Regions from separate parts of the Homo sapiens genome. Here region 2 is linked to region 1. A link means that fine-mapping ties the variant in region 1 to the expression of a gene that starts in the linked region. Tissue or cell type: whole blood. Region 1 holds a variant in brackets; the other region holds the start of a gene. All regions are shown on one strand. Distances are between the middles of the regions.

Evidence for each region. PIP is the estimated chance that this variant, and not a neighbour inherited with it, causes the effect.
Region 2: it holds the start of PSMA3-AS1, and the variant in region 1 is fine-mapped to the expression of PSMA3-AS1 in whole blood (TOPMed, PIP above 0.99).

What each region holds. Positions count from the first base shown.
Region 1 is chr14:58,261,181-58,269,281 of GRCh38, reverse strand. PSMA3 (proteasome 20S subunit alpha 3) reads right to left here. Exons shown (of 11, transcript NM_002788.4): 7 at 5,512-5,577; 8 at 1,762-1,808. It overlaps PSMA3-AS1 (PSMA3 antisense RNA 1), which reads left to right. Exons shown (of 4, transcript NR_029435.1): 4 at 1,889-3,917. Among named protein-coding and RNA genes, the nearest start is that of PSMA3, 20 kb to the right of the region's middle. The variant C/T (reference allele first, on the strand shown) is at 3,252.
Region 2 is chr14:58,294,381-58,302,487 of GRCh38, reverse strand. PSMA3-AS1 (PSMA3 antisense RNA 1) reads left to right here and starts at 4,351. Exons shown (of 4, transcript NR_029435.1): 1 at 4,351-4,533. ARID4A (AT-rich interaction domain 4A) reads right to left here and starts at 3,933. Exons shown (of 24, transcript NM_002892.4): 1 at 3,788-3,933; 2 at 2,628-2,690; 3 at 798-908. The coding sequence starts at 2,633. RefSeq lists a silencer at 2,844-3,363 and enhancers at 3,994-4,083, 4,194-4,243, 4,264-4,683, 3,980-4,703.

The DNA.
Region 1 (8,101 bases):
AAGGAGGCACTGTCATGCAACATATTAAAGTAACATAAAAAGTATCAAGAGGCCAGGTGCGGTGGTTCACATCTGTAATCCCAGCACTTTGGGAGGCCAAGGTGGGTGGATCACAAGGTCAGGAGTTCAAGACCAGCCTGGCCAAGATGGTAAAGCCTGTCTCTACTAAAAATACAAAAATTAGCCAGGTGTGGTGGTGGGCGCCTGTAATCCCAGCTACTTGAGAGGCTGATGCAGGAGAATTGCTTGAACACGGGAGGCGGAGGTTGCAGTGAGCCAAGATCGTGCCACTGCCCTCCAGTCTGGACGACAGAGTGAGACTCCATCTCAAAAAAAAAAAAGTATCAAATTAAGTACAGTAGCAGAGTATAGCTTTATCTAATACTATGCACTGAGTTACATACCTTACTTTTTGGAGGGTCTTCTAAAACCTTGCTATAATATGAGAGGATCTTGATTTTCTACAACTAAGTAAAAGATAACATGCTGCTCCATTTTCTTAAATGATGAAGGGATGGCTTTCCTAACATGGAACACTTAACAGATGACTACCATTATACCTAAATATAAAAGATGGTAAGAACTGATTTCCAGAAGGACTTCAAAGGATTGGTTCGGTGAAGGAAACAGAGTATATCATGATAACATACTATACAATTCAAGGAAGATATCTGACTTCCTTTCTTAGCAGCTCTGCTGCATGTTGGTTCCTAGTGTTGCCATTATTAACTGACAATCATAGAATGGCTTCTGCTTGCTTCACAACTGAAACTAGGAGGGCGGAGGGGAGGAGGTGGCAAGAGGGGTAAAGGCAGTAGCAGTAATGATGGACCGGTTAATAAGAGACTCTGAGTGTGATGTAAATAGTATGTTTATTAAACAATAGAGCCCATTGGAATTTTTTTCTTCCACGTATTGTTAGATGTAAAACCTGATACACTACCATACAGACAGGTGATTGACTAGACCTTGTTTATGTAGTTCTAATGTGGAATACTTAGAGTTGTTATGAATTACGATTATCCATAACTTTTGAATCTAAAAAGCTGGCTACACAACGTATTTTGTTGGAATCTTTTTGTAATACCAAATGTCTACACTCTTTGATCTAGAGAATCACAAAATTTTAGAAACATCACTACCCAGGTTAATTGACTTTTTTATTGTTTACTGTCCAAATACCTGTTACATATTAATAGTATTCTACTTTATATACCTGTAATAAACTATTCAGGGTTTCTTAAGCTGGTTGTTGAAATGTTTTGTAATACTGCTCTTCTTACCTTGTTATAGGAACTTTTATAATAAACCTGAAAAAGTGAAACATATCTTTCCCAAATAAATAGCAGATTATATAAATGAGCCAGCTTCATGGATCATGTATTGAAATAATTAGTTGTAACCTATAAAGTTTGTAAGCATTCTTACAATAGAGGCAATCTTAAGATTACTATTATTAGGACTTAAGAGATTTGAGAAGTTGGGAGCTAACAAATTAAGACCCTAATGGTATATGTCCTTAACCTGTAACAGGAGTTTATTTTGTCAAGCTATTTTTCCCATCCTATTCATTACTACTAAAAAATATTGCTTAAAAACATTTTCTTCCTTCGTGAGGCTTCTTAGAATGTTAAATTTACCTTCTAAAAATTATACACTAAGTTATTTTACAGGAAAACAGCTTCTTAGGATTAATGTAATATATATATGCAAAGGTCAAATGAAATATTTTTGTGGATGGTAAGAAAAATTTCAACTTACATTTTTGCAACTTCTTTAACGATATCACGGCAGGTCATTTCTTTCATCTATAGAAAATAAAATGTATACTGTTCATCAGAAGAACATTTTCCACTTGTGTAATAACTATTTTCACTTTTATACTCAGATATAAAACCAAGGAAAATAACCTAAAGTCTGAAAAAGACCAGAATCGAAGTTTCCTGATTCATATTTTAATGTTTTGAAATTTATACTCCAGGCTGGGTGCAGTGGCTTGTGCCTGTAATCCCAGCACTTTGGGAGGCCGAGGCGGCCGGATTGCCTGAAGTCAGAAGTTCGAGACCAGCCTGACCAACATGGTGAAACCCTGTCTCTACTTAAAAATACAAAAGAGCTGGGCATGGAGGTGGTGCGCGCCTGTAACCCTAGCTACTCGGGAGGCTGAGGCCTAAGAATCTCTTGAACCCAGGAGGCAGAGGTTGTAGTGAGCCGGGATCACGCCACTGCACTCTAGCCTGGGCGACAGAGAGAGAGACTGTCTAAAAAAGGAAAAGAAAAAAATTTATACGCCAAAAAAGATATTCTGAGATAACCTGTAGTTACCACTAACTTTGTGACAAAATTATAAAAATCCACAGCCATCTATGAATCTGTAGGCAGACCTGAAGTTTGAACGACTGGTGAAGACATCTGATTTTCTTTATAGCCAAGTTAGGATAACAAAATGCAAACAAGTCATTAATATTTACTATATGCAAGATACAGAAAGATGAAGGAAGGAGTAAGAAGTTATCCTTCGTGGAACTATTCAAAGCAAAAATGCAAAATACCAGGGAAAGCTTTGAAGAACCAAGATTTGAGCAGGTTCTTAGAATATAGATTGGATTGGATTTGATTTCAAGAAAGATGAACGTGTAAAGCAGAAGTGGGAAGCCAAAAACTTTTTTCCAAATTAGAATTAAGCATTCTTTCAATGAACATTTGGAAATCAAGGTAGAAAAATATCCCTAGGGCCTAGCTGAGGAGTCTGTATGTTGTTGGGTTTTGATAGTAACCAGTCCAAGATTTTGTTATTAGACGTGGGTTTCTGAATAGACAGGCATTTCTGAACAGACATGACAGGATCAAAACAATGTTTGAGCAAACTGCCCTTCATCTACTGTGGATATGTTGGGGGATGATGGAATATAGTGAAAGATAATGGGTGCTCATACAGCAGTCTAGACTTAAGGTGATTCAACTACTATATATTAAACTAGATTATCTTTTATTTTTTAATTTTGAAATCTGGATGCTCAAGCTCTGCCTGCACAACCACATGAGGAAGAAGGAACAATGACAACAAAAATAACACTAAATTTAAATTTAAGAGTACTACTTTTAGGAAATAGACAAACCATTATTTGGGTACAACTAAAGGCAACTGGCATGGACTCAAATATTTTGGGGAAGAAAAAGACTAAAAGTTCTAAGGAAGAAAATGCGAACCTTGATAGTTTGAAATAGTTAAAAAGACAGTGTAGAAACTG[C/T]TTAGGCAGTTTGATTATGGACTATTAGATGATACTTGGGTCTGATAATGGTATAAGGAGAATAAAGTATTTAGGGATCCAATATTACGCCTGCAGCTTTTTCCAAATAGTTCATGGGGGAGGGGGATGTGTAAGTGGTTAACTGAAGTCTAACTAGATAGGTTTGTTGTAAGCTTAGGATGTTTACAGTTCTTCATGTTAAGTTGAGCGTGATGGGAAGGGAAAGAATGCTGATCTTTAAATTTTTGTCCTTAGTTAAGTTCTGTATTTAGTGAATTAATTGCATCCTAAAAAGTCAAACTTGAAAAGCACATTTTAAATGGCAAATCTATTTTTTACATGTTTGTGAAGTTTTTATTTTTTAGTAAACAGACCATCAGAAGAGAACAATGGTACAGAGCAGGGGTCAGCAGATGGATTTTGTAAAGCATCAACTTGTAAATATTTTCAAGTTTATTAGCTGTATGGCTCTGGTTTCTGTTCCCTGTTCCAAATGTTAAAGTCTACTGTTGTATTCTAAAAGCAGCCATGGACTGAATGTAGCTGTGTTCCAATAAAACTTACACAAAAGCAGGCAGTGGGCCATAATTTGCAACACCTGATTCACAGCATAATTTTGTCACAAACTGAAAGTGTTCCTCAATTAAAGTGATTTTTTTTTCTTGATTTTTCTCTGGGATTTATTGTTTTTCCCATTCCTTGCTAGGATTTAACTACAGAAAGACAGATAGTAACTGCTCTAAATATTCTAATTTCCTTTATTTTTTTGAGATAAGGTGTCGCTCTGTTGCCCTGGCTGGAGTGCAGTGGCGTGATCATAGCTCACTGTAGCCCCCAACTCCTGGCTGGGGCTCAAACAGTCCTCCTGCCTCAGCCTCCCAAGTAGCTGGGACTACAGGCACGCACCACCTCACCTCGCTAACATTTTGTTTTGGGAGATAGGGTCTTACTCTTTTGCCCAGCCTGGTCTTGGAACTACTGGGCTCAAGCAGTCCTCCCAACTTGGCCTACCAAACTGGTAGGATTACAGGGGTAATCCCCCTCAACTGACATAAATATTCTAATTTTCAAATTTCCATATAATAGTATGGAGAGATGAAAACAAAAGGAAAAGAGTAGAAGATAGGAACCTAGCATCATACTAGTAAGTGTGCAATGGAAAAGAACATAGGTCTAAGACTCATAAGGTCTGGATACTGTTCAGAACCAGCTGATTCTGTGGTCCTATGCAGTGTGTTTAATCTGCAGTTGAGCTTGGGCTAAATGACCTCTAAGATCCTTTTGTCAGCTTTACTAAAATACGAAACAAATTAGGTTTTATAGGGGGTTCTAGAACTTAGCATTGTATAAATGCCAAGCACTAATAAGTATTTTCTAGAAGCTGGTCTTAAATAAGTTGAATGAGTAATTAGTTGAGCAGGGTTCTAGTACAGCATTAACATTAAATGTATGTGAAATTGTATCTCACTTCAGTTTACCAAAACACTGATAAATGGTATGCCTGCTTTTTAGGCAAGTTTCTGACAGGTAATCAATAATATTGAAACAGTATCCATGAAGTCTTTAAGTTGATCAACGCATGGCTAAAAGGAAAACCAAGTTTTTAAGAAAACTTTTTCACACTAATAGCTGAATTTTGTGAAAGAAAAAGTGGGTAGTCGTAAGAGTGTAGGCTTTATGCCTTACCTGGCTAGGAGCAAAGCTAAGAGAACCGGTGGAGCACAGCCAGACATAAAAGCTGTGTTCCAAAGAAAGAATATAGGAAAAATATAACTTTTTATTAACTCAAAATTTTAAACAAAATTTTCAAACTAGAGCTCACAGAGATTCATAAATAGGTTTCAAGGATTTTGTGAAATCATATCAAAAGTTGTGTTTTTCTAGATTGAGGCTTTATAGCAGTTATTCAGAATCTATAAAGGGATGTATAACACAACTCTACAGATAATATGTTACCAGCTTTCCCATTCAGTGACTTAGCAGCTTCATAAACTCTCAACATCAAACCACACTATATCCTTACACCGAGCTTCCCCAGCCACAGGCCACATGGGGCCAAACACAAATTCGTAAACTTTCTTAACACATGATGAGATTTTTTTTTAAGCTCATCAGCTATCATTAGTGTTGGTGTATTTTATGTGTGGCCCAGGGAAGCCAAATGATTGGACATCCCTGCCTTAGACTGAAATGTCTGTGGTGATAAAATTTCACTGCATTAGGATGACGACATAGTAAAAATTCAAGCATTAATTATTACCTGAAGCTTCTCTATTTCCGTCTTTGCAGCTTGCCTGGCTTTGCCGATGGCACAGCCCCAATAACCCTATTTAGAAAAAAATATATATAATCACTGAATTAGTACACTATCATATGTAATTAATGACTACTAATGTTTCTATAACCTAGTGAAAGGATGCTAAATGACTTTTAAAAGCAAGTATAGAAAAATATAGTCAAACACATTCTGATGAATGCCAAAGGGCTCAAAAATACTAAAATACCAAACAATTCCAAAACAACCTGTATTTTTAATAAAGGTATATCCAAAAATATGTAAATTATGTAATCATATACACTTTAAGACATTTTGGGGAACAGGAACGGAAAAGATTTTAGCACTATGACAATGAAAAATGAAATTATATATTCCTGAGAGACAGAAATAAAGTTAATTCCTATGAGTTCAGTACTCTAAACCCCCAATTTTATTATTTTGTAAATTTTTTTAAAGATAAGGATGCACAGCTGGGTGTGGTGGGTCATGCCTGTAATCCCAGCACTATGGAAGGCCAAGGTGGGCAGATCACCTCAGGTCAGGAGTTGGAGACCGGCCTGGCCAACATTGTAAAACCCTGTCTCTACTAAAAATACAAAAAAATTAGCTAGGTGTGGTGGCAGGTGCCTGTAATGCCAGCTACTCCAGAGGCTGAGGCAGGAGAATCGCTTGAATCTGGGAGGCAGAGGTTGCAGTGAGCTGAGACCGCGCCACTGCACTCCAGCCTGGGCAACAGAGTGAGACTCCATCAAAAAAAAAAAAAAAAAGGATGTACACATATATACTTCTGTTACAGCAAAATATATTTAAGAATCTTCATTTTCTTCAATTAGTAAAAACGACAAAAATGTAAGGATAAGAAAACAGTTAAGAAACGGTAACAGGCCGGGTGCAGTGGCTCACACAAAGTGCTTGTAATCCCAGCACTTTGGGAATCTGAGGCACGTGGATCACTTGAGGCCAGGAGTTCCAGACCAGCCTGGGCAACATGGTGAAAGTCTGTCTCTACTAAAAATACAAAAATTAGCCAGGTGTGATGGTACAGGCCTGTAATCCCAGCTACTTGAGAGGCTGAGGCACAAGAATCCCTTGAATCCGGGAGGCAGAGGTTACAGTGAGCCAAGATTGCACCACTGCAGTCCAGCCTGGGCAACTGAGCAAGACTCTGTCTCAAAAAAAAAAAAAAATGGTAATAATTTAGGGAAAGCTCTTAGAAATCACATTTAAACCTTCTCTTTAAAAGGGAAGGCAGGGCAAGGTGGCTCACACCTATAATCCCAGCATTTTGGGAGACCAAGGTGGGCGGATTACTTGAGATCAGGAGTTCGAGACCAGCCTGGCTAACATGGTGAAACCTCGTCTCTACTGAAAATACAAAAATTAGCCGGGTGTGGTGATGCATGCTTCTAATCCCAGCCTACTCGGGAGGCTGAGGCAGAATTGCTTGAACTGGGGAGGTGGAGGTTTGGCGCCACTGCACTCCAGTCTGGGTGACAGAGCGAGACGCTGTCTGAAACAAAATTAGGTCCGGCACTGTGGCTCACGCCTGTAATCCTTGCACTTTGGCAGGCCGGGGTGGGCAGACCACCTGAGGTCAGGAGTTGGAGACCAGCTGGCCAACATGGCAAAACCCCATCTGTACTAAAAATACAAAAATTAACCAGGCATGGTAGTACATGCCTGTAATCCCAGCTAATCAGGAGGCTGAGACAGGAGAATTGCTTGAACCTAGGAGGCGGAAGAGGTTGCAGTGAACCAAGATCGAGCCACTGCACTCCAGCCTGGGAGACAGAGTGACACTCCATCTTATAAATAAATAAAATAAAAGGGATGACATGGCTGGACATCGATGCTCACGCCTGTAGTCCCAGCATTTTGGGAGTCCAAGGCAGGAGGACTGCTTAAGGCCAGGAGTTTGAGACCAGCCCTGGGAACGTGGAAAGACCTTGTCTCTATAGACACCAAAAAAATACAAAAATTAGCTAGGCATGGTGGCATGAGCCTGTAGTCCCAGCTACTTGGGAGGCTTAGGTAGGAGGATCGCCTGAGCCCAGGAGTTGAGAGGCTGAAGTGAGCTATGATTGTGTCACTGCACTCCAGCCTGGGCAAGAATGAGGAAAAAAGACATTAAATACAGTTTTAAGACAGTGTTTATAGTAATAAAGGAAAATCACATATTCAAAATACTATATGCACTATACAGTTTCTATAAATAACATACTGAAAAAAAATCTTTCCTCTGCCTCGTATCAGTTATTAATGATAAGAAAACATGGCTGGGCCTGGTGGCTCACACCTGTAATACTCGCACTTTGGGAGACCCAGGTGGGTAGATCTCTTGAGGACTGGAATTCAAGACCAGTCTGGCCAACATGGCAAAGGCCTGTTTCTACTAAAAATAAAAAAAATTAGCCAGGTGGTGCACACCTGTAATCCCAGCTACCCGGGAGGCTGAGGCAGAAGAACTGTTTGAACCTGGGAGGCAGAGGTTGCAGTGAGCTGTGATCACACCACTGTGCTCCAGCCTGGGCCACAGTGAGACCCTGTTCCCCCAAAAAGGAAAAAAAAAAAA
Region 2 (8,107 bases), 33 kb before region 1:
GAGTCTAGCTCTGTTACCCAGGCTGGAGTGCAACGGCATGATCTTGGCTCACTGCAACCTCCGCCTCCCGGGTTCAAGCAATTCTCCTGCCTCAGCCTCCTGAGCAGCTGGGATTACAGGTGCCTGCCACCACACCCAGCTAATTTTTGTATTTTTAGTAGAGACAGGATTTCACCATGTTGGTCAGGCTGGTCTCGAACTCCTGACCTCAGGTGATCCACCCACCTCAGCCTCCCAAAGTGCTGGGATTACAGGCGTGAGTCACCGCGCCGGGTCTAATTTTTGCAATTTTAGTAGAGACAGGGTTTCGCCACGTTGGCCAGGCTGCTCTTGAACTCCTGGCCTCAAGTGATCTGCCCACTTCGGCCTCCCAAAGTGCTTGGATTACAGGCATGAGACACTACGCCCAGTCACAAAATAAACTTTTTAAATGCTTTTTTACACTGTCTTGAAAACATAATTCCTGTTGTATTTGTATTGTCCTAAACACTAAAATTGTCTCTACCTGAACATTAAATGAGGGGAGAAAATAGATTACAGTCCAAGTATGCTACCACAAATAGTTAAGAGCCAAATGACAGGAAATATCATGAGCATGGTATTTTGATGGTAGCATTTTGGAATAATTTCTCCTTTTGAGTTTTTTATTTCTTTATTTTTGATGTGCTTTTCCTTTAAGTTTGGTATATAAAGGGTTTTCATATAATGACTCAATAAAATGCTGATTTGCAGTCTCTCTCTCCCCAAATTTCTTCAATCTAGAGTTAATAAAACTATTGCATAAAAACAAATATTACCTTAACTTTCACCAGCCTTTTCACAGTCTTAATCTTTGCCTCACAGAAGGCACCTCGGTACTTGGCACTGACATCGGTTCCCACTGTCAGGTAGGCAGGCTCATCTGCCGCCTGGTGAAAGGAACATAAAACTGTGAATGTCATTACTATGCCTCCCTACTCCAACCTCAAGTCTCATTAAAAGGTTGTGTTTGAAGCATTAAGAATATTAAAATGACTTGCTTATTAATATCATTGAAAATTTGAAAAATACCCTAAATACTTGATTAGCAACCTTTCATTTTATAGACTGATGTCCTGATATGATAAAATGTTTTAAAGTTGTAATTCAAAATTATCAGTGATTAATAATGTTTTGTCTCGATACAAAATTTTTCAAAAATTCTACTATTATATAAGCAGAAAGATAAGAAAAAAACAGAAAAAATATTTCATATTACACATATCATAAAACTAAGTTATTCATTTATAGCTTCCTGAAATTTTTCAAATTAAAAGAAATATTGCTACTAATATTAACACTAACAATACATAATTGTTTATTGACATAGCCACATAAAGGTAACATCTTTTCATAAGGAAAGTATCATTTGGAAAATTCATTTGCTAAAAGCTGCACTTGAAAGGTTTTAAGTCTGAATTCAGCCGATGAATGCAGATATGAACTGATGGCTCCAGACTTGTAGGTATACCTAGTTTACCACACTAATCTTCTTAGTATAAAAAAATAAGCGTTACTAAGAAACATCTACTTTCAGCAAATGGACACGACCAGAATGATACATAGAAAGATGTAAGAAATGTCACTCTACCACTCATTTTAATTTTTACAGTAACAGGATGATTGCTATCTCAATCTGTCATTTTACCTTTTTTTTTTTTTTCCGGAAGTTAAAGTGTATCCATACAAGTTCAACTTAACATTGTTAAGTGCAAAGTTAACAGTGTACACTTTGGAGATACGTTTTGAAGTAGAAAATGATTTTTTGTTTTCTAATAAGTTTTCCCAAGTAATATTAAAGAAGGTTAAATATGTCATTTACTTCGAGAAAATAGAAAACCACGAGAAAGTTTGGGAAAATGCTATATTTCAGAGCTTAATATGCTGAAACAGTAAATAAGACAGGAATTGGGTACCTTTTAAAGTAAGTGCATTTACAAAAAATACAAATTGAATAGGAATGCTTTTGGCAAACAAAAATCTGACCTGAAACATTCAATGGCCACAGCATTCAAGAACGCTATATGAGATCCTTTCCCTTTAACCATCCACATACTGATATTTGCAGTCATCCTCAGTAGAATATGTATCTTTTTAGTATATGTTTTAAAATACTTATTGGAAAGATTTAACTAAAACTATTATTATACTTCAACTTCAAATATTTTAGCCACATAAGTTCATTTTACACACAGAAGAAATGATACCTTCATTACTTAATCCACGTATTCTTTCTTTTAGAAAATCGCATTGGCACACGGGAAGAAAAAAAATTTACAAAAAATCCCCCAAAGAACCAAAGCAGGACAAAAGCTTTACTTCTGCAAAGGTTGCTGCCAACACAGGAAGTGTTTAAAAATACTATCCGAATGGACAACAATTGAAAGGCTGCACCAGCCTTTCCAAAGTACTGCTACAGAGAGGGCCTAAACTCCGCATTTAGACACACAGATCATTTTTCACCCATTCAACACATCCTCCTATGCCGAAACTGCTGATCAGTAGGAACATCAATTTTGAGTAGCAAAACAAATGACATTCCACGGCACTAGCCTTAGGATTGGCAGTGTTCAGGGCGCGAGGATCGGGGCAGAGTTGACTCCACTTACCTTCATTTTTGTTGGTGATCTGTGGGGTTCCAGCTCAGCGAGCTATCTTCGCAGTCGCTAGAACTATGGGGAGGGGGAAAGACAGGCACAGACATAATCAGTCAACTGCGGGGAGCGACCAAGGGAAAGAAAGTAAACAAACGCCAGCGGGGAGGGGCAGAATCCTCACCAGCCAAGGGACAAGACCCCTTACGAGGGCAGCCAGGACGCAGGAGCTGAGGGGGCAGCGAGAACCCCACGAGCGCCAAAGGGCAGCCCGTTCCGCCCCGGAGCTCGCCAGCGGCCCACCGCGCCCCCGCCTCGCTGGCCACTTTGACCCGGAATGCTCAACTCGGAGCTCCAGGACAGATAGCTCCGGAAAAGGCCAGAGCTCCCTTCGGGCTTCCCCAGGTCCCCCGCGGAGACGACCGCCGAGCCTCCGCTCCGCGGTCCCCCGGATACCCCGACTTCGGCCCGCGCCCCGCCTCCGCCGCTCGGCCCCCTCGGCCCGCCCCGGGCCCGCGGTGGCGGCAGCGGAGTGTCACGGCGCCATTGCTCTCCTTCCTTCGCTCTGCACCATGTCAGAAAGGAGAAGCGCTCCTTCACCCAAAGGGGCAGGGGCCGCGGCCTTCAGCCGGGAGCCGCCAGAGCCCCGGGGGACCCGCGTGGGGGAGGGGGCGGGGGGCGGAGGGGAGGAGGAGGGGAGGTGGCCCGGACAGGGTGTGGGAGGGGAGGGGAGCCGCACCGCAGCAGCCGCTGCCTCCTCCCAGCGCCCGCCTCAACTTTTTGTACAGCCCAGAGAGGTATCAGCTCGTAGCCCCTCGAGTCCTGCCACGGACTCCGCAGAGGTGGACGCGCCGCGGAGTTGGGGGACGGCTCCCCCAAGCAGCCCGCTCTTCACCGCGCGGAAGCAAACTTAGCGGCGCGGCCAGCCCCACAGCCATTTTCCCGGGAACCCGAGGAAGCGGACGAGGAGGCGGCTGCAACTGCGGCGGCGGTTCCTGCAGTTGCTGCCGCTGGTCAATGGCTGGCCCCTTCCCTTGCGCTCGCCGTGCCACTTGCCTAGCATCCCTCTCCCCACCTCCAAAGCTTCCAACTGCACCGGGACCTCGGGCAGCAGCAGCTGCTGCTACTGCCACTTCGTCCATTCAGTATCCCCGGATTCCCCTCTCCCCACCTACCAACTGCGGGTGAAGTGCGCGCTGTCAGCTCCAGAGTCCTCCTCCCCTCTGACCTCCGTGGGCCCCCGTCCGGGCAGCACCACTCCCAGCCGCGGCTGCAGTTCCTGCGCCGGGTTCCCCACTCGCCCCGATTTACTGCCACAATCCACCAAATAACAAGCTGTTGAGCAGACTCGCTTCTACACGAACTCCTATTGGCTGCTCATGACGCCGAAGAGCTTCGGATAGGACCTCGCTACCTGCCGTCCTCATTGGATGTAGCTGTGAAACTTCATGGATTGGTGAGAAAAACAGCAGGTAGGACATCTTCCACTTATGATTGGCTTTTTCCGAAAACCAACTTTATTGGAGAGTTGGTTATTGAGTAAGCAAGTCCTGAGAAATGATTGGTAGAGACGACTCCGGATGTGCTTGACTGGGCACTGATTGGTGAATTGAGGGGTCAGGAAGAGCAGTTCGACACGAGGATTGGCGGCGGAGTGTCCCATGGAAACGGAACCCAGAATTGCAGCCAGGGGCTTGCACGGGGGCGGGGCAGGGTCTGTCCAAGGCGCTTGCGCTAAACCAGCTTGTCGGCGCCATTTTGTCTCGGCAGCGGTGGCCGTAGCTCCATCGCATTTTATGTTTCTGGCGAGAAGGGAACGGAGTTTTCATCAGGTAGATTGGTTTTTGTGCGGCCGTCCTCCACCGTTTCCTCCAGGACAGCACCTAGTCGTGGCCGGAGGAGTCTCAGAGCTGTCAGAAAGGTCAGTTGGAGGCTATGGTTGTCCGATTGACTGGGGGGATGGCGCAGCCCTAGCGGCACCGGCACCGGAAGTGAAGGGGCCGCAGGCAGCCATGGTAAACTTCTCCCTGCGGCGGGGTGGGGAGAAGGGGCGGGATGAATGGGGGCGAGGCTTCCTCTCCCGCCGAGATAAAGAGGTGGAGGAGAGGCAAACGTCTTTCTTGGAGGTTCTCTTTCGGGTTTTCGAGAATGTGAGAGATTTTCTGGGTTCTGTCCCACTGCAATCTTTCCTGTCTTTGGAAGTGCATTTCGGGGACTTGCCATGTTCTCCACCTGATTGGCACCAGCTGTGGGAGCCTTCTTAGTTAAGACAGGGAAGAAGTGGTTCTTAGAAACATCCTGCATGGGTAGAGGTTTCCGCGTGCTCCTCACGGGATAAAGCTATGAGGAAACTGGAGAAAGCGCTGGCTTTCTGGATGCTGAGGAATTTACTTGCCAGCGCAGACGCTTCTTCTGTGACCTTAGACAAGGGTCTGTCACTCTGCACGAGGCTTATGCTACTTTTTGAAAGCAAACAGTGGTTTTGCAGGGACTGAAAACATCTTAGACAAAAGGACGTCCCCGATAAGATAGACGTTGATCTTTTTCTGTTAACATCTTATATTCTGTTAAACGAAACACACATTTTTAAATAGCGGAATTGGAGTATAAAATTGACTAGTTTTATAGAATGGAGTAATTTTTAAAATGTGACATATCGTCAGTAATCCACGTGGACTAAATTTTCTCAGTAAGAAAACAGCCGAGCAGAATCAGTTTTTTATTCGTAACAGTAATTTTGCTCAAAAGTATTCATAAAAACGTGAAATGCATGTTGGCATTTCTAGTGAGTGACCTAGTCACACTGGATAGATCCTAATAGTTACCCTCAATACCTCTGTTTTAAACCCTACTGCTATATTGGTGGCGCCCATAACTAGAAAATGATTGTGTGACTTAACAATTACTGGGTTTTTTGGCAGTTGTGCTGAAGAAAACAGAACATCTCAGTGATTACTGAGGTGAGTCATAAAGTCTAAAAATCCTTAGAATTGCGGGGGACTACCTGGAAAAACTTTCTATGGATTAGTAAAGAAATACCAGAATGGGAGGAAGGGTAGTTAAAAGATGTTTTGTTTGGTCAGATTCAAATGAGTCTGTATAATTAGCTTTCTAGTGTAATATTTTAGAATGAAATCCCAAAATTAGGACATCCTTATGGACTTGTTTACCCATTTACGTGGTTCTCATTTCTGGACTTTGATATACCTCATGTTTTTGTTATAAAACATTATGCGTATTTTTGTGATTTCCTCCCCCCCACCCGCCTATTTAAAAAGTTCTTATATAGAAAAGATCTTGTAAATGGGAGTGTTTAGGAGTGAGGCTTTTTTTTTTTTTTTTTTTTTTTTTTTGGAGACAGAGTCTCTCTCTGTCATCGAGGCTGGAGTGCAGTGGCGCAATCTCGTAGGAGTGAAGCAGTTTTTTAAAAGACCTTATAAAACAATATATTACTGAATTTTCTAGGGGGTAAGCATCCATAATTCTACGATCAAAGTTTAAACTGTTATTATTGAATCCAAATAATGCATGGACATTTGGAAATTATTAAAAAGCCCAAAGAAGAATACAAAAATGTCTTCCCTCCTCCAAAAGGTAGTTACGGTTTACACTATAGTTATATATTATACAAAAGGCTTTGTCTTTTTTGTTGGTTTTGTTTTACCAAATATTCTAGTGTTGTTCATTACCGTCTATTCTTTATAGAAAACATTGGGAATATTGGAAATATCTTATCGTAAAGCATCTTTTATGTCTTCATAGTGTTTTGTGGGATAAATATATCATAATTTATGTAACGTGTTTATTTTTCTATAATGGCAGTAATATGTCAGTGAATATCCTTGTACATGTTTTGCAAAATATTGTGTCTAAGAAGGTCGTTGCAAAAGTAATCGTGGTTTTTGCATTATTGGAATTTGCCATTTGATGTTGGACTACGTTGTTAAATAAATGTGGTTATGTTATACATCATTTTAATGGGCATTTCTCGCTTTGTTCTTTTGGTAATGACTTATTACTCTCTGTTTATTTCATGTTTATTTTATTTTATTTTTGAGACAGAGTCACGCTCTGTCGCCAGGCTGAAGTCAGTGGCACCATCTCGGCTCACTACAACCTCTGCCTCCCAGGTTCAAGCAATTCTTCTGCCTCAGCCTCCCGAGTAGCTGGGACTACAGGCGCGTGCCACCACACCAGCTAATTTTTTGTATTTTTAATAGAGCCAAGGGGCTTCACCATGTTAGCCATGGTGGTCTCGATCTCCTGACCTCATGATCTGCCTGCCTCGGCCTCGTAAAGTGGTGGGATTACGGGCATGAGCCACGTGCCCAGCCTTCATGTGTATTTTAGACAATGAAAATGATGTTAGACAAAAAAGCAAATTCGAGCAGTTTTCGTTTTTGAGTTAAAAATGGGTTGTAAAACAACAGAGACACCATATCAGCAATGCATATGGTTCAGGAACTGTTAACTTACAGTGCAGTGGTGATTCAAGAAGTTTTTTTGTTGTTGTTGTTTGAGATGGAATCTTGCTCTTTCAGGCTAGAGTGCAGTGGCATGATCTTGGCTCACTGCAACCTCTGCCTCCTGGGTTCAAGCCATTCTGCCTCAGCCTCCCCAGTAGCTGGGATTACAGGCACGCACCACCATGCTCAGCTAATTTTTGTATTTTTAGTAGAGATGGAGTTTCACCATCTTGGCCCAGGCTGGTCTCGAACTCCTGACCTCGTGATCCGCCCGCCTTGGCCTCCCAAAGTGCTGGGATTACAGGCTTGAGCCGCTGTGCCTGGCAGTTTCAAGAAATTTTGCAAAGGGAAGGAAAGTCTTGAAAATCAGGAGCGTAGTGGCTGGTCGCCAGAAGTTGATAACTACCGGTTAAGAGCAATCAGCAAAGCTGATCCTCTTAAGGCTACTTGAGATGTTGCCGAAGAACTCAATGTGGACCATTCTACAGTCCTTCAGCATTTGAAGCAAATTAAAAAGTGAAAAAGCTCGATAAGTGGGTGCCTCATGAACTGACCGAAAAAAAAAGTCATTGTTTTGAAGTGTCCTTATCCCTTATTTTTTGCAACAACAAACCATTTCTTGGTCAGATTGTGATGTGCGAGAAAAAGTGGATTTTATACAACAACTGGTGATGGCCAGCTCAGTAGATGGACTGAGAAGATTCTCCAAAGCACTTACCAAAGCCAAACTTGCACCAAAAAAAGGTCATGGTCACTGTTTTGTGGTCTGCTGCTGGTCTGATCCACTATAGCATTCTGAATCCTGGCGAAACCATTACATCTGAGAAGTATGGTCAGCAAATCGATGAGATGCACCAAAAACTGCAACGCTTGCAGTCAGCATTGGTCAACAGAAAGAGGCCCAATTCTTCACAATGCCCTTCCACATGTTGCACAACCAATGCTTCAAAAGTTGAACAAATTGGGCTGTGACATTTTGCCTCATCCGCCATATTCACCTGACCTCTCTCCATTGACTACGACTTCTTC